Regions from separate parts of the Homo sapiens genome. Here region 2 is linked to region 1. The links come from fine-mapping of genetic effects on plasma protein levels. A gene starts in region 1. The other region holds a variant in brackets. All regions are shown on one strand. Distances are between the middles of the regions.

Region 1 (8,573 bases):
CATGAGGTTAGATAAGTGTCTAATTTCATTTTTCTGCATGTCCCAATACCATTTATTGAAGAGACTGTCCTTTCCCCATTGTGTGATCTTGGCACTTTTGTCAAAGATCAGATTGTAAATGTGTAGATTTATTTCTGGGCTCTCTCTATTCTGTTCCATTAGTCTCGTTGTCTGCTTTGTGCCAGTACTATGCTGTTCTACAGCTCTGTAGTAGATTTTGAGATCAAGTAGTGTGATGCTTCCAGCTTTTTCTTTTTTGCTCAACATTGCTTTGGCTATTTGGGGAATTTAGGATTGTTTTTCCTATTTCTGTGAAAAAATGTAATTGGAATTTTGATAGGGATTGCATTAAATCTGTGGATCATTCTGGATAGTATAAACACTTTAAAAATATTAATTCTTCCAATCCATGAATATGGAATACCTTTCCATTTATTTGTATCTTGTTTAATTTCTTTCATCAATGTTTTATGTTTTTCTAGTGTTTGATTCTTTTCCATCATTGGTTAAATTTATTCCTAAGATGTGTGTTGTTGTTGTTGCTGTTTAAATGGGCTTGTTTTCTTGATTTCTTTTTCAGATCATTCATTGTTAATTATAGAAATGCTACTGATTTTTGTATGTTGATTTTGTAATCTGCAACTTTACTAAATTTGCTTATTAGTTCTAATAGCTTTTTAGTAGAGTCTCTAGAGTTTTCTATACATAAGATGATGTCATTTGCAAATACAGACAATTTAACTTCTTCCTTTCCAAGTTGGATGCTTTTTTATTTTTTTTCTTGCCTAATTGCTCTGGTTAGGGCTTCCAGTACAGCACTATGTTGAATAAAAGTGGCAAGAATGGGCACCCTTGTCTGGTTCCTGATGTTAAAGGGATAGCTTCCAATGCTTTTGAGTATTCTCCCTTTTTCTTAGTCTAGCTAAAGATTTTGCAATTTTATTTATCTTTTCAAAAACCCAACTCTTACTTTTGTTCATCTTTTCTATTGTTTTTCTGGTTTCTATTTCAGTTATTTCTGCTCTGATCTTTTCTTCGTTAACTTTGGGCTTAGTTTGTTCTTTTTAGTTCCTTGAGGTAAAACAATAGGTTGTTTATATGAAATCTTTCTTCTTTTTTGATGTAGGCATTTATTGCTATAAATTTCCCTCTTTGAACTGCTTTTGCTGCACCCCATAAGCTTTTGTATGCTGTATTTTCGTTTTCACTTGTCTCAAGATACTTTTCAATTTCCCTTTTGATTTCTTATTTGACCCAGTGGTTGTTCAAAACCAGGGGAGTTTTAAAAATTTTTCCAGCATTTTTTCATTTACTCTTCACTCAACCCTATGATATATGGATTCTTATCTTCCCCATTTTACAGATGAGAAAACTGAGGAGAGAACAGGCTAGGTAGCCTGCCTAAAGGCACATAGCTGTAAAAGACAGAGCCAGGATTTATACCCAAAGAGTCTGGCTCCAGAGTTAGGGCATTAAATGATTCTACTCTACCATACATCTCACTTAATCCCCCGCCAACCTTGGGAGGTAGGGTCTGTTATCATCCTCACTTTCAGATGAGAAACCAAGCCTCAGAGAGGGACACTCAGCTTGTAAATGACACAGTAAGGCTCAAACTCAGTCCTGTCTGCCTTCCCAAGCTCCACTCTGTCCTGACTGAACCATTCCTATGTCTTTGTGTCTGTCTGCACCATTCCCACCTTCTGCAACACTCTCTTTCTCCCTACTTCCACACTGGTTTTGAAATTCCCTGCATCCCAGTGCAAATCTCGAGGGGTGATGCAAATGCACTTGCCCTTCCCCTTTCACAAAGCCTTACTGATCTCAACTAGAAGAGACCTTATGTTTTGAATTCTGAAGCCCATGGAATCCCCCTTGAGACACTTCCCCTCCACCCCACTCCTCAAGATGGACCCTTGGGAGTTCTGCCTCCTCTTTTTTTTGTTCCCTCTACCTTTGCTAATAGGCCTCACTTCCACACCCTGCCTCCTCACCCTGTCTGAACCACTTTCAGCCTGATCCTGGTCCCCTTTTCTCTAGTTTGTTTTACCACTTATTGAATTCCTCTTACGTTTGTGTCAGGCCTGAACTGAGGGCTTTATATGCATTATTTCACCCAGCCTGGGAGGCAGGAAATATTAGTGTCCCAGTTTTATAGAGGAAGAGGTGGAGGCACAGAGAGGGAAGGTGACTTTCCAAAGATCACACAGTACTTGGAAAAGCTGTGGCTGGGCCCCTGCCCTGTTTTATATCCTCATGCAATTATCCATGTGGGTCTGGAGGTCAGAGAGACTTCCCCAGGCACAGAAGCCATTACACAACAGGGTGGCCACAGCTGTGCAAGGGTTGTGGGTGATCACAGTGCCCAGAAAGCACCAAGGTCAAGGTCACAATGGGAGCACTGAGACTCTTCCTGGGGGGTTGAGCAAGTTGTCTTGAGGAGAGGCCGTGGAATGAAAGCCTTGGACCCTGAGTAGGAGTTTGCCTGGACAGTAGTGTGGGAAGACGGGCAGTGGAGAGGTGAGCAGCAGCAGAGGAAATGGCAAGAGGTGTGGTTTGGGATGTGGTCAGGGCTGGAGGCCACACTAGCATGGCTGGTGGGAGCCAAGTCCTTGAATACCCAAGAGTTTGGTGCCAGTCTTCTAGTGGGCCAAGTGCCTGTATTGGTTGTCCAAACCAGCTCAGACTGGCTCCCGTGCTCACATGTGGCTCAGTGAACTTGGTGACCTCAGGAGATGTGAAATAAAAGCAAACCCTCCCCACCACCCGCTGCCTTGGTGGTTTGGAGATCCAGATCCTCTCCACGCCTCTGTGTTGTGGCAGCCCCAGGGACAGTGAGCAGCTTAGCAGGGAGAGTGGGGTCCTTCGCTTAGTACATTACATCCCGAGCTTCCAGGGCAGGATAGACTAGGGGATGAAGGAAGGAAGGAAGGCAACACCCAGAGTACTCTGGAATCTGGTTTATTAGCTGGGGGTTGAAGTGGCAGGGAAGGACAGTGTTGGGGCGAGGCCTCCAGTCACCCAGTTCCTCCCCGGGCTGCTCCTCCCGACTGGACCAGGGTAGGTTGAGCTGCTGGGAGTGGAGTATCATGGGTGGCCCTTTCTGCAGGAGAAAAGAGCTTCCCTGCTGCGGAGGGGAGGCAGGCAGTGGGCAAGCCCCCCTAGCATCCGGTACAGGCAGCGTAGGCACAGATTTCACATGTGCCCGGGTCCTCAGCGATTTCCTCTGCACAACAGAGATGGAGCCTCGTGAGAACCAGCATTTCCTCGCGAGGCCCCTGCCGCCCTTGGCCCAGAGCTTGTACGTCACCACCCAGCCCCAGGAGAATCTCAGCAGGCCCGTACTCTGACCTACTGGGCTTTTCGCCCCAAACCAGGGCACACAGACCACTCAAACCAACCAATCAAAGCAGAGATTCCACCAGAAAGAGAGGAAACTAAGACCAGATGAATGGTCTTAGTTCCCAAACCTCAGCAGTTACAACTTGGAATTGAAGTGGGCATGGAACAGACCCACCAATCAGAGCCAAGCTCCCTAGTTCCACCAGTCAGAGCTGAGCCCTTCCTCCAAATCCCACCAATCAGAGCACATCTCTTCCTCAAGTGCCACCACAGTATTCCCGAACCCCACCAATCAGAGAGGAAGGAGGCTGCTCACCCAGCCTCTGAAGTATCTCCTGGGCATTGGGCTCCTTGCAGAGAGGCTTGAGTTCTTCTGGAAAGTTCGGGTTGCTACAGAGGATGGGAACCACAGGTTCACCAGGGATGGGTGCAAAGTTCCTGAGTTTCCCAACCCTGGGCTCCTGGGGCTCCTGGAGGTCTTTGAGCTTCTTCACTGACTCCAGAGAAAAGGAGAAATTTCCATCCTGGAAGAGAGAAGCCCAGAGCATGAGGCCAGGCTGCAGCCTGCTTCCTGGCTGTGCCCCCCGTGCTGGCCCCGGTCCAGCCCAGTGGTGCTCACAGGCAGTGTTCGTGGCATATGGGAGCCAGGCGATCCACAGTGGGGCACTGTGAGGGGCAGAGTTCAGGCCCCACGTCCTGGCTTGGCTCCGTGATGCTGGACACTCTGGAACCCGCAAATTCTGCATGTTGTATGGGGAATGGAGAAAATGGGTGTGAAGCTCCAGGAACACCATAGGTGCCTAATGAGTAGGAGCCAGTGTGCTGATTTTTAGGGAGAGGCAAAGGACCAGCACCCAGGCATCGTAGTTCCACGTGGCCAAGCCCAGGCTGTCTTTCCCCTGCCTGAGAGCGGTGCGGCTGATTACTGGGCCCCCAGCTCCAGCCTGCAGCCTGGTTTTGGTTTGAGAAGCAATAAAAGGCCTCCCGGAATCTGGCTTTGATAGAGATCAGGGCCCCCGCTAGGTGCCAGCTTGGCCTGTCGCCAGCATTGGCACTGGTAGGCATACCCATCTGTCAGGACCTCCAGGGTGTCCATGTGGTTCCTGGGACCCACTGAGGAGTAAGGTCTGGATTTAAATCCAGCTCCTGCACTTCCCACAGCCATGTGCCCATGGCCTGTTACAGAACCTTTGTGAGGCTCAGTTTTCCCCTCTGTAAAATGGGACTAATGATCCCTTTCTTCCAGGTTGATAGTGGAGCCACAGTGAGGGGCTGGGGAAGGAGCCGGCACATAGGACACTCAGTAAATTGGCCAACTCCCCGCCTTCCCCATATGGTTATTCCTCTTCCCTCCACTGGGTTTCTTTCTCCTCCAAAGTTGAAGGGAAAGGTGTGTGTGTGGCTGGACTGAGCAGGAGCTCCTCGAAGAAGGCCAAGCCTGGGACACACACCCTCAATCCAGCCCCAAAGAGGAGGTACTCTCTCAGGGGACCAGACCTGGGCACTAGGGGCAGGGAGCCAGCTGGGCCGGGGTAGGGACACAGGACTCACCTGCACGGTGACCCCTCCTGCCAAGGCGGCCCAGGCCCCAAGGAGGCACAGTGCGGAGAGCAGGAAGGCATTCATGGCAGCAGTGCCCGAGAGAGGGGTGGCTGTTCTGGATGCCAGGGGGAAGCGGCGGGACTTTTAAAGAGGGCAGGTTACTGAGTAACCTGGAAGCCTCTGTCAGTCTCATCTGCTCACCTGTCAGGCCTTATCAGATAAGGCTCGAGACAGCCCTAGGAGATAAGAGCCAGGCAGGGGGGGCCCCGGCCCCTCCCTGAGCACCTACTTTGACCCACAGCCGGGCTGGGTCCTGCATTCATTCACCAACAAGGCACATTCACTCACGACTGCCCTGTGCTGCTGTGTGGGGCCGGCAGACCCTGCCCTTGAGGAGGGGGGCCCAGCCCGACAGTGAAACGCAGGGCGATTAGGGTGGGGTGATCCTAGGATGAGGTGACGGGGCTGCACTGGGGGCTGAGCTCTGGAGAATGGGTGGAAGTTTTCCCAGAGAAGGGACTGAGGACAGAAGGCCATTTCATGCCAAAGGGACAGCCAGGAGGTGAGACGGGCCTGGAATATTCAGGGAAATGTGAGAAATTCCACGGGGGAGGCTGCAGGGCAAGTCAGGGTCTGGGTTTGATTGCCGCGACCTCAAGGAAGCCCTCCGCACAGCCTGGGTTCCGTTCCACCTACTGCCCAGTTGTGAGGCGTGTGAACTTGGGCCAATGCTTTCCCCTCTCTGAGTCTCGTTGTCCCTTGTGTCCCCTGTGGGAACCAAAAATAATACCTACCTCATGGGGTAGGTGTGTGGTAGGCATTACTGTTTGGAGAATCAAGTGAGGTTTTAAAAACATTTAGCTCAATGCCTGGCACACAGAAGGTGCTCAGCAGAGGTCCATTCCCATATTATTAGCAGCCACAGCAGCTCCTGGTCCTCCCTGGCCCCTCTGGTGACCTCCTGCCTGTCTGAGTCACAGGCTGTCCCCATCCTGTGCTGGTCCCCATCCTGTCCTGCCTGCCCTGCAGCCTCAGGGTGTCCTCGAATGAGCTCCTCCCCAATCCGCCCGCCCCCCTTGCCCCTGCAGATACAGTCCCCTTTCCGCGGATCTCACTGGGGAATTGCTTGGGTGTGCCCGCGCCCCTATAGACTCTGACCCCATTCAGACTGCGCCCTCAGGGCAGCGTGCATTCACTGTGTGCTGTTGTGAGCAGGAATCCCCAGGACACAGGAGAAAGGGTAGCCCTGGGATTGTCATCTTTCTACTCAGCCAACCTGGCCCGATGCCAGGACAGCCCTAGGGCGGGAGGTTGGGCAGGAATTCCTGGGTGGGGAGAGTCAACACTGAAGAGGGAATTGGAGAGAGCAGGGCCTGACCAGGAGGGAACTGCAGGGACAAGGCCCTCAGGGAGGGGCAGGTAGCTCCTGGCCCAGCTCCCAGGGCAGTCCTCACAGCTGCACTGGATTTCCCACCCCTTTCTGGTGAGTGTGTGTGTGTGTGTGTGTGTGTGTGTGTTAAGGGGGGGTGTGTCTGCGGAGATGTGTATGTCTGTGTATGCCAAGGTGTCTGTATATACCCTGATGGGTGTGTGTAGCCAAGGTGTGTTTGTATGTGTGCTTGTGCTGAAGGTGTGTGTGTGCTGAGGCATGTGTGTACACTGAGGAGTGTATGTGTATATATGCTGAGGTGTATGTGTGTGTATGCTGAGGGGTATATGTGTGTCCGTGTACACCAAGGTATCTGTGTCTGTGCAAGGAGGTGTGCATATATACATCGAGGTGTGTGTGTGTCAGTGTGTATATACACAGGCGCGTGTGTGTACACCGAGGTGTGTGTGTTTGCTGGGATGTGTGTCTGCTGGGGTGTCTGCTGGGGTGTGTGTATGTGCACTGAGGTATGTGTGTGTGTATGCTCATGTGTGTATATGCACTGAGATATGTGTGTGTATGTGCACTGAGGTGTGTGTGTGTATGCTGAGCTGAGTGCATCTGCTGTGTTGTGCGTGTGTGTGCCGAGGTGTGTGTATACACTGAGGTGCATGTATGCGCTGAGGTGTGTGTGTGCTGACGTGTGTGAGTGCTGACGTGTGTGTATACACTGAGGTGCGTATGTGTGCTGAGGTGCGTATGTGTGCTGAGGTGTGTGTGTGCTGACGTGTGTGTATACACTGAGGTGTGTGTGTGTGCTGAGGTGTGTGTGTGTGCTGAGCTGTGTGTGTGCTGATGTGTGTGTATACACTGAGGTGTGTGTGAGTGCTGATGTGTGTGTATACACTGAGGAGCGTGTGTGTGCTGAGGTATGTGTGCGCTGATGTGTGTGTATACACTGAGGTGCGTGTGTGTGCTGAGGTGTGTGTGTGCTGACATGTGTGTATACACTGAGGTGCGTGTATGTGCTGAGGTGTGTGAGTGCTGACGTGTGTGTATACACTGAGGTGTGTGTGCGCTGACGTGTGTGTATACACTGAGGTGTGTGTGCTGACGTGTGTATACACTGTGTGTGTGCTGAGGTGTGTGTGTGTGCTGAGCTGTGTGTGTGCTGATGTGTGTGTATACACTGAGGTGTGTGTGAGTGCTGACATGTGTGTATACACTGAGGAGCGTGTGTGTGCTGAGGTATGTGTGCGCTGATGTGTGTGTATACACTGAGGTGCGTGTGTGTGCTGAGGTGTGTGTGTGCTGACATGTGTGTATACACTGAGGTGCGTGTATGTGCTGAGGTGTGTGAGTGCTGACGTGTGTGTATACACTGAGGTGTGTGTGCGCTGACGTGTGTGTATACACTGAGGTGTGTGTGCTGACGTGTGTATACACTGTGTGTGTGCTGAGGTGTGTGTGTGCTGACGTGTGTGTATACACTGAGGTGCGTGTGTGCTGAAGTGTGTGTATACACTGAGGTGTGCGTGAGTGCTGACGTGTGTGTATACACTGAGGTGTGTGTGAGTGCTGACGTGTGTGTGTGCACTGACGTGTGTGTGTGCTGACGTGTGTGTATACACTGAGGTGTGTGTGCGTGCCTGGACATGTGTGTGTGCCCACCAAGGTCAGCCACACACTGGTCCCCTCGCTGAGGGCAGGTGGGAGTGGGCGTGGGAGTGAGTGGGGTTAGGGGAAGGAATGGGGCTGAGGGTCGGGGCGTGGGACTTGGATGCTGAGCAACAGGATGTCGGGGGATGGAGCTGGGGGAAAGGTGAGGGGCAGGAGTTTCGGAGGCTGGGGTGGGGATGAACACCGGGAGAAGTTCGGGAGTGCGGCTGAGCTCCATGCTAGACTGGAGCCGGGGCTTGCGGAGACCGGAGCGGGGTTGGGATTGGGGTCAATTCGGGCGACACTAAAGTTGGTTTGGATTAGGGTCAGGTTGAGATGGAGCTGAGGTTGGGCAGGGGTAAATTAGAGTTAGGTGTGGAGCCGAGGGCGCAGTCCAGATTGAACTGATGTGGTGCTTGTAACTGACGTGGAGGCTGGTTTGGGCTAGGTTAGGGCTCATTGGCAGGACTGGGATTGGAGTTGAGTTTGCAGCAGAGATTGGAGGTGTGACTGGGTTAGGTTTATGATGGGGGTGGGTCTGGCTTAAGTGTGACGCTACAGCTGGGTTGGGATTTGACTTTCAGTTAAGGATGGGGCTTAGGTGGGGCCACCAGGCTGAGGACCTGTTTTTTCTGACTCATTTTGGTCTTTCCCCTCCCAA
Region 2 (8,573 bases), 230 kb before region 1:
TCCTGAATATTGTTTTTGTTAGATTTATATCTAAGAATTTGTGGGTTTCGGTGCTACTGAAAAGGCTATTGCTCTCTAAATTTCAAAGTCCATATGTTCATTGCTAGCATGAAGAAATACAATTGACTTTGTATCTTGCAACCTTACTAAACTCACTTATTAGTCCTAGAAACTTTTTAATGATCCTTCGGGTTTTTCTACAAAGACAATAAAGTTACACGTGAAAAGACATTGTTTCCTTTCTTCCTTTTAAATCTTTTTGCCTTTTTTTTTCTTGCCTTATTGTACTATAGGACTTTCCATATGAAGTCAGATAGGAGTCATAAGAGAGAACATCTTGCATTGTTTTTTATCTTAAGGGGAAAGTGTTTAGTTTTTCACCAGTAAGTGTGTTGCTAGCTATAGCCTTTTGTAGATGCCCTTTTTGAGGTTAAGAAAATTGCCTTCTATTCATAGTTTGCAGATAGTTTTAATCATGAATAGATGATTAATTTTTAAAGTGCTTTTTGTAAATCTATTGAAATAATCATCGTTTTTCTTTTCCTTGGTTCTGTAAATATATTTAATTTTAATTTCATTGGTTGATTTTTCCAGTGTTGAACTAGCCTTGCATTTTTTTGTTTTGTTTTTTTGTTTGTTTGTTTGTTTTTGGAAGGCTTTTAACTATAACTTCAATTTCCCTAGAAGATATGGGATTATTGAAGATATAATATTTCTTCTTGAATGAATTTTAGTATGTCTGTCCTTCGAGGAATTGATTCATTTCACCTAAGTTGTCAAATTTATGGGCACAGAGTTGTTTGTTGCACTACCTTATTATTCTTTTAATATCTGTAGGGTCAGCAGTGATGTCCCTTCTTTCATTTCTGATATTGATAATTTGTATCTTCTTTTTTCTTGGTCAGTCTGCCTAGAAGTTCACTAATTTTGCTGATCTTTCAAAGAACCAGCTTTTGGTTTGATTGATATATCCAAATTGCTTTTTTGTTTCAAATGTATTGATTTTTGCTCTTATTATGTTCTTCCTTCTGCTTGCACTAGTTTTAATTTGTTCTTCTTTATCTAGTTTTTTTCTTTTTAGGGTGGATGCTTACCTTACTGATTGAAGACCTTTCCTCTTTTGTAGTGTAAGCATTTAACTCTATAAATTTCCATCTATACACTACTTTAGCTTCATTTCCCAAATTGTGATATGTTGTAGTTCTTTTTCATTCAGTTCAAAACGCTTTTTTAATTGCCTTAAGACTTCCTCTGACATATGGTTTATTTAGATATGTGTTGTTTCATCTCCATACATTTGAAGATTTTCCACTTATATTTCTATTATTGATTTCTGGCTTAATTCCATTATAGTTCATGACCATGCTTTCTATGGTTTCTAGTCTTTTAAGGTTGTTAAGTTTGCTTTATGGCCCAGAACATAGTATCATTTGGAGAATGTTTCATGTGCACTTTAGAAAGAAGTGTTGTCATGTAAAGTATACTATAAATATCAACTGGGTCAAGTTGGTTGATAATGTTGCTCCAGTCATCTATATTTTTGATGATTTTCTTTCCATTTGTTCTATCATTTACTGAAAAAGGAGCACTGAAGTTTTCAACTGTAATTGTGAAACTATCTATTTCACTTTTTGATTCTATCAGCTTTTGCATCATGTATTTTGAAACTCTGTTGTTAGGTACGTACATGTTTAGCATTGTTATGTCTTCTTGGAAAATCAAGCCCTTTATAATTATTTGATGTTCCTTTTTATCCCAGATAATAATCATTGTTCTAAAAGTCTCACTTGTCTGATAGTAATATAAAGACTTCAGCTTTATTTTGATTAGTGTTTGCACAGCATATCTTTTTCTATTCTATTACTTTTAACCTATCTGTCTTTATAACTAAAGTGGGTTTCTTACAGAAAGTGTATAGCTGGTTCTTAATTTTTCATACAATCTGACAATCTCCATCTTTTAACTGGTATGTTTAGACCATTCACATTTAATGTGATTATAGATATGGTCAAATTAAAATCTATTTTGCTAGCTGTTTTTTTGTTCCTTCTGTTTTTTTCTTCTTTTCTTTTATTTTTCTGACTTCTCTCGTTAGCCTGGTTTGGGGGTGTGTGGAGGAAATGGTTTCTATTGTTCTGATTAAGCTGTAGTCTTAGGCAAGCACTATATCACTGAGTCCTGAAGCAGCAGCCTTCCCAGTGATCCCATCCCTCCCCTGCTTCACTTCTGAATCCAGAATGTATATCCATCCTTTCCCTAGGTGTTAAGATTTTTTTCCCTGTTCCCTTATCTCAGATGTAATGGGATTTCACCAGTATCCAAAGAGTGATAATGTTTGCTCCCTTCTACATACATGTCACACTAATTAAGGCTTTTGTTCATAGGGGAGGTAGGCAAGAAGGGTCCAGGTAGAATTTCTCACCCCTCTCACAGCAGTTTCTTTTCCTCTCCTCCAGCAATTCACTACAAGGGAGATTTTCTGTAGACTCTCCCAACCATTTTTGTGAACCTGTGATGGGGTTCATGGAGAAATGAGTCTAAGAAAGAAAGTGTGATCTCCTTTTATTTATTATCCCTAGGGCTTTGCCCGCTTCTACTAGAGTTCATTAAGCCAGATTCTGCATATTCAACAACCACCTTAGCTGAATTCATATAGGTATGTTTCTTGCTTAGGTAAGTCAGAGCTCATATCTCATTTCTCCCTGAAGATACCTATCTCTTCCTCGATTTTGGGCCTACTGGGTACCCAGCAACCTTAGGACTCCAGTGAGCTCAAGAAAAGTTGTGAACTTTCTATTCGTAAAGATTTTTTTTCACCATAAGTTTAGGAACAATCCTTCCCAGCTGTCTACATCTTTGAGAAGAAACTAGAAGTCTACCTTCTTATAGGTACTTTTGCATCTTTTGCAACAGCAAACAGAAGAAGGTACAGCAGTTGGTCAGGGTAATCACTATTCTCTTGGAAACTTGCTTAAAGAGCTTTAGGAATGACAGATGTTCCAAAAACACCTCTATCTGTTGTTTTTGAGAAATGTAAGATATACGGGGAAAATCCTATAGGAGTTAAGTAAAGTACAAATAATGTACCAATTTTTCAAAAAGTGGAGGGCAGAATCTGTATAAACTATCAGTCAGTTATAATTCAGGACAACTGTCTTGTTGAAAGCATCTACCAGCCTGCAATTGCCTGGCAAAGAATATGATGCCACATAGTAAACACCATGGATGGTGAAGAATAAAATAACTCTAGAGGCTTTCTAGTCCACTTAATTTCAGAATTGTTCATACATGTCACCATTTAGTGAGAAATATGACAGGCAACTAATTACTCAAAATTAGGCTAATGACAAAAACATTATACTTATGTTTTATTATTTATTCTAGTTTCCCCAAAGGTAAGTCTTGTCATTAATCATTAACTACTCCATATATTATTATTATTAAAAATGATAATGAAACAACTACAATTTAGTGACCACTCACTACTAGCCAAAGACTATGCTTAGCTAATAGCAAACATGTTCTCATTTCACCTTCACAACAACTCAGTGAGAGAAGTGGGACTCAGAGGGACTAAGAAACTCGTCAAATCCACAGAATTAACATATGTTAGAACTAGAATTAATTCCCAGGTCAGATTTTAAAGTCCTTACTTTTAACTTCTGAGTCAGACTATCCCAGATGATGTTAATTATTTCCTGTGGCCCATTGAGTATTTCCTGCTGTCATTTACAATGCTGGAAAAGGTCCATCCTTGCATAAGAACACAAAAGCATCAGAAATGCCTTATTAGCTGAGTCCAGTTGTCCAGCCACAAGGGCATTCAGTTTCAGAATGGCAACAAGGGACTATTTGTTGAGTGAACATGACAACTGACCTTTCTGAGATTGGTTTGCAAAGAGGGCATAACTGTCCTCCATGTTTTTTAAATGTCTCTCTCACTCTCTCTCTGTATACATATATATGTATGTAAATATGTGTGTTTGTGTAAAATATTCTTTTCTTTCCTGTAATCCTGTATTATCTAGCAATTTAGTCTTCTTGAAATTATATATATATTTATATTATATATTATATATATTTTATATATATAATATATATAAAATAAACTACAACTAACTCTAAGAATAAAGAGCCCTCTATAAGATTTCTACCATCTCTAATGAGGAAACATAATGTGATAT[T/C]CTAAGATCATCTTAGATACCTGGAGCATAGCAACAGCACAGCAATGAGTTTCAAAGACAACAATGTGAACAGCTACCACTAAATCTTCAGTTAGGGGAGTCGAGCTATACTCAAGTATATTTCACCTAACCTAAACAAACCTGTGTAAAATAAGATAGCAGACTACATAGGAAAGACAGTAACAAGCAATGGCAATTGCCTGCAAGTAAAAAGGAAGAGTGCTACAAAGAACAAGGAGAAGTAGTCAATTCAGGGAAATTCAGTTCAAGGGTAAATGTAAATCACCCTCTGTAACCCCAAGATGGAGGGTCACCTGCCAGAATCTCTGAACTATAATACAAAGCAGTAACTAATGCTTCCCAACCTATTGCAAGTCAAGATGCACACAGAAAATCAATCTATTCAGATGACTCATGTGCGAGTCAAGATGCACACAGAAAATGAATCTATTCAGATGACTCAGCAAGAGGCAACTGATCCAGGGGCTTCTGTCACCCCTCAAGCCCGGCCTGGCTTCCCTGAGAGGTGGAGATGGAGGGATCATATTTCCACACACCTGTAATCCATTCACAACACACCACTGAGCTTTTGTCCACCAGGTGGAAAGCTCTGCAATAACTTGTGTCAACAAGAAGTAGTTCCATTATGTTTGGTCTACTCCACTTAAGAAGGTGGGAAAATATAAAATATCACAGAGTAATATTTCCATCAAAAGTAGTTAAATGTTAAAACATTTTGATGCTTAGAGGGCAAGCTTCAGTTAGAAAAATTAACTCTTGGAATGCCTCATTTCCTGATGATGCACAAATACAAAGTGTGACTACTCTGTCTTTTATTGGGGTTCAAGGTATATCTATCAAATCATTCTGTTATCTCAAGGTATTTGTGGAGTCTGAATTAACCATATCAGTACCCATGATGGTTTTAAAGTATTATTATACTGGATGACCATATGCTCTTATGATGGGACACACTGGAGGTAAAGGGATTTCTATTAATAATTACACTATAATCACTGGTATAAGCCAGGGCTGTCCTAGGAAAACCATTTGGTCACCCCAGTATTAGATCATTCTCCCTATTTGGTCCTAACCTTTTTACAACAAAGAAAGCTATGTTTATATTCTTCATTAAAATCATAAATAAAAATAAAACAGTGCATGCTAGTAGCAATAAACTAAAAACTGAAATTTATAAAACAGAAAATAAAAGTGGTACCATTTATAATACCTGGAATCATTCTTTCCAGAGATAACCTCCATTAACAGTCTTCTTTCCAGTCCTCTTTATGTGGGGAGAACTGATCCCCCAACATTATTATCCAAAGTCAGACAAATGGATACTGGGTGGCCAAAAATAATAAATATATATTCTATACACAGAGTTCACATGGAGCCTACCCCTCTCCTGCAGTCCTGGGGTACAGCATGCAATTTGGTTCTAAACTGCTGGGCACAACACTTTCTTCCTGGTCATGATGTTGGTTCAAGGTGGTCACAGGACTCTTTTAGAGCCAGTGAGACACAAAGAAACTTTTGCTCAGACTTCTAGGAAGACAATCTAGGTACTTATCAAATTGAAACTGAGAGGATCGAAGGCCTTGACCTGCACTATCCAAAATGGTAGCCACTAGCCATATGTAGCTATTGAACACTTGAAATGTGACCAGTACAGAAATGTGATGTAAGTACAAAAGGCACACTGCATCTCAAAGACTCAGAAGGAAAAAGGAATGTAAAATATCTCACCAATAATTTTTATTTTGATTACATGTTGAAGTGATGATGCATATGGCTCATATTTTCTCTCTAGTGGACAATGCCAGTCTAAAACATTGAACCATTGGTACAGCCAGGCCTGAGGGTATCCCTGGTCATGGACTTTTCAGATATGTCAACTAATAATATCTATTTTGCTTAAGAAAGTTCTGATTGGACATTCTAGCACTTGCAACTGAGAATCCTAACTGGTGCATTGTATATGTAGAGTCATGCCATACATTCAAGACTGAACAACCAATCATGAGCACTTGTTCATGCCAGCACCTTAAGAGTAGTGTGCCCAGATCTGCACAAAGTATTCTATATGTGGACAAATCAACCATTGTTTTTATCTGTTAACACCACTGTATGTGTCTGGGGTGTGTCACCAGCTTTCTTTAAGGTCTTCCAGTGCCAAAGTCTTCTTCTCCTGGCCTTTGCACATACTTTACTTTCTGCATGGAACACGCTTTCCTCTCTTTCACTTGCCTGGTTCCCTCTCATTACTCAGGACGCAATTTAAATGCCATCTCCTCAGAGCTGAGTTTCCTGACCACTCTATTTTGAGTAGGTCACCCCTGATATTGTCTCTCATAGCACCACATCTCCCCTATATGGCATGGACCAAAATATGTATTAACCTCTGTAGAAGGCTGTTTAACATCTACCTTCTCCTTCCCCACCATACCATACCGTGCATCAATGCAGAAGCCATGTATATGTGGTTCACCCATTTGTCCCCAGCACCTGGAACAGTAACTAACACATAGTAAATGCTCAATCAACATCTACTGAATGCCAGGAATGAGTGTTAATGAGTCCAGGAGAAGGAGGAAGGTCAGGGGAAGATGAAGTAATGGGGGAAGGGAACTAAGATAATTCAGTGTAACCAAACCACTGATGAATGTTGATTAATGCCATCTAGAACACTCAAAAAGAAAGTAAGGATGAGAACTGACAGAGGAAGAGCAAGTCCAGAATGGAAGGATTTGAGCAGTTAGTGGCTGCCTGGACCTTCCTCCAGGCATAAAAGCAAATGGTCAGAGATACAAATGATGAAGCCTGCAGTTCAAATGCATTTCTGAACTCCACACAATGAAAATTATGCTGAGATTTTGCTTTCTGTTAGTGACAATCTGGTTCTTAGTCTCATTCTCATAACCTAAATACAAAACTATGGGGGAATCTGAGTCCTACTCTAGGAATTTTCATCAGACTCTGCTCAAAGGCAAGATCACATTCTTTGACTTCTGCATTGTGGAGCTTCTCATGAGGCTGATTGAAATGCTGCTGTTCATATCAAAGCCAGCCTTTCTGGACTTCATCGAATATCTAGATCCCTTCTATTTTCCTCTTCACATTCTTGTTCTCACACATGATCTTTGCCACTACCCTGCTTGCTTACCTCAGCTTACCTTATACCTCGGAGGCAGCAGTAACGGTTTTTACTAAAACCCTTTAGGATTGATAGATGATAGCCTCTAATTATTTCTCTGGAGATAAGGCCTCTCTTTAAATGAGAATGGCTCTTCTTTTTGTTTTATTGTGATATATATTTTTAATTCATTTATTTTATAATGGAAAGTTGATCAATACAAAATAATTCATAAACCAAGCACCCAATTTAAGATCTAGCATTTTATTTTGGAAGCCCTCTGTGTGTCCCTCTTTGGTTTCATTTCATTTTTTAAAGAATGAAAACCACTTTGTTAGTGAACTCCAGAATTTGGGAATAAAGGGGTTAGAACCTTAGAATTTAAAGATGTGGTGCTGTCCACCAGGCAGGTGCTGACGAGTCTCCGGAAAGGTGGGAGAGCCACCGCAGTCTCTCAGAGGAAAGAAGAAAGTGCTTAGTCCTTTTTCTTTTTATTTTTCCTTCTCCCACTTTGATCTCTCTTCTTTCTTCCTTTTTAAGAATTACTACACCTCTTCTCTTTGCTGGTAAGACGAGGGAAGTCAACAGAGCTCCACGATTCTGTCTCCTTCTTTTTCTAACAGATGGTTTCCATTAGGGCTTACCAGGTATTTTCTCTGAACAGAATCAAACATGCATTGAAAAAGTAAACATCAGGATCATAGAACTAGCAGCCCTTTATTTATTACATAAATACAAAGATTTTATAGCTGGAAAAGAACTTAGAGATAACTAAATCCAATCTTCTTGTTTCAGACCTAAGAAAACCAAGACTCAGTACTTGCCTGAGTTATTAAGGTTATTAAGCTAAATATATGTCTTCCCTCTCCAAATCATTGTTTTTATTTCCCATTTTTCTTTTTTTCTTTTTCTTTATTTTTTATTTCCCATTTTTCAATTCTCATTATTAATATATTTTCATTATTGATAATTTGATCACATTATTGATTATTTTACTTTAGTCTGAGGCACCTAGCCTTAGGCTATTAGTATTTTCATTTAGCAATATTAATTACAAAATGATTTTTGAATGATACCTAAAAGATACCTCACATTAATGTAAAATACTTTGTTTTATTCTTAACAGCATTTATCTCAGAAGTCACTAAATATTCAATCATATTTTTCTGATACCCTGACATTCTCTGCCTCATATTTCTACTTCTAATGAAATATACAATTGAGCTGAATTTTAAAAAATATAGGTACTTCAG

Alleles and levels. Alleles are on the strand shown, and positions count from the first base shown. The strength of an association depends on the size of the effect and on how common the allele is.
For the plasma level of the protein whose gene starts at base 5,001 in region 1, allele T in region 2 goes with a higher level than allele C (weak association).

The links. A credible set is the group of variants that fine-mapping cannot tell apart. PIP is the posterior inclusion probability: the model's chance that the variant is causal. Protein levels are from antibody-based Olink assays in UK Biobank. Linkage for the fine-mapping came from a reference panel and not from the study's own genotypes, which makes the PIPs less certain.
Region 2: its variant is the best candidate, but not a certain one, in a credible set for the plasma level of the GUCA2A protein (UK Biobank, PIP 0.62).

Annotation. Positions count from the first base shown.
Region 1 is chr1:42,159,745-42,168,317 of GRCh38, forward strand. GUCA2A (guanylate cyclase activator 2A) reads right to left here and starts at 5,001. Exons shown (of 3, transcript NM_033553.3): 1 at 4,894-5,001; 2 at 3,659-3,866; 3 at 2,946-3,226. The coding sequence starts at 4,968. The coding sequence ends at 3,162. RefSeq lists an enhancer at 4,861-5,825.
Region 2 is chr1:41,931,673-41,940,245 of GRCh38, forward strand. It overlaps a transcript of HIVEP3 not described here. Among named protein-coding and RNA genes, the nearest start is that of HIVEP3, 17 kb to the left of the region's middle. The variant T/C (reference allele first, on the strand shown) is at 4,185.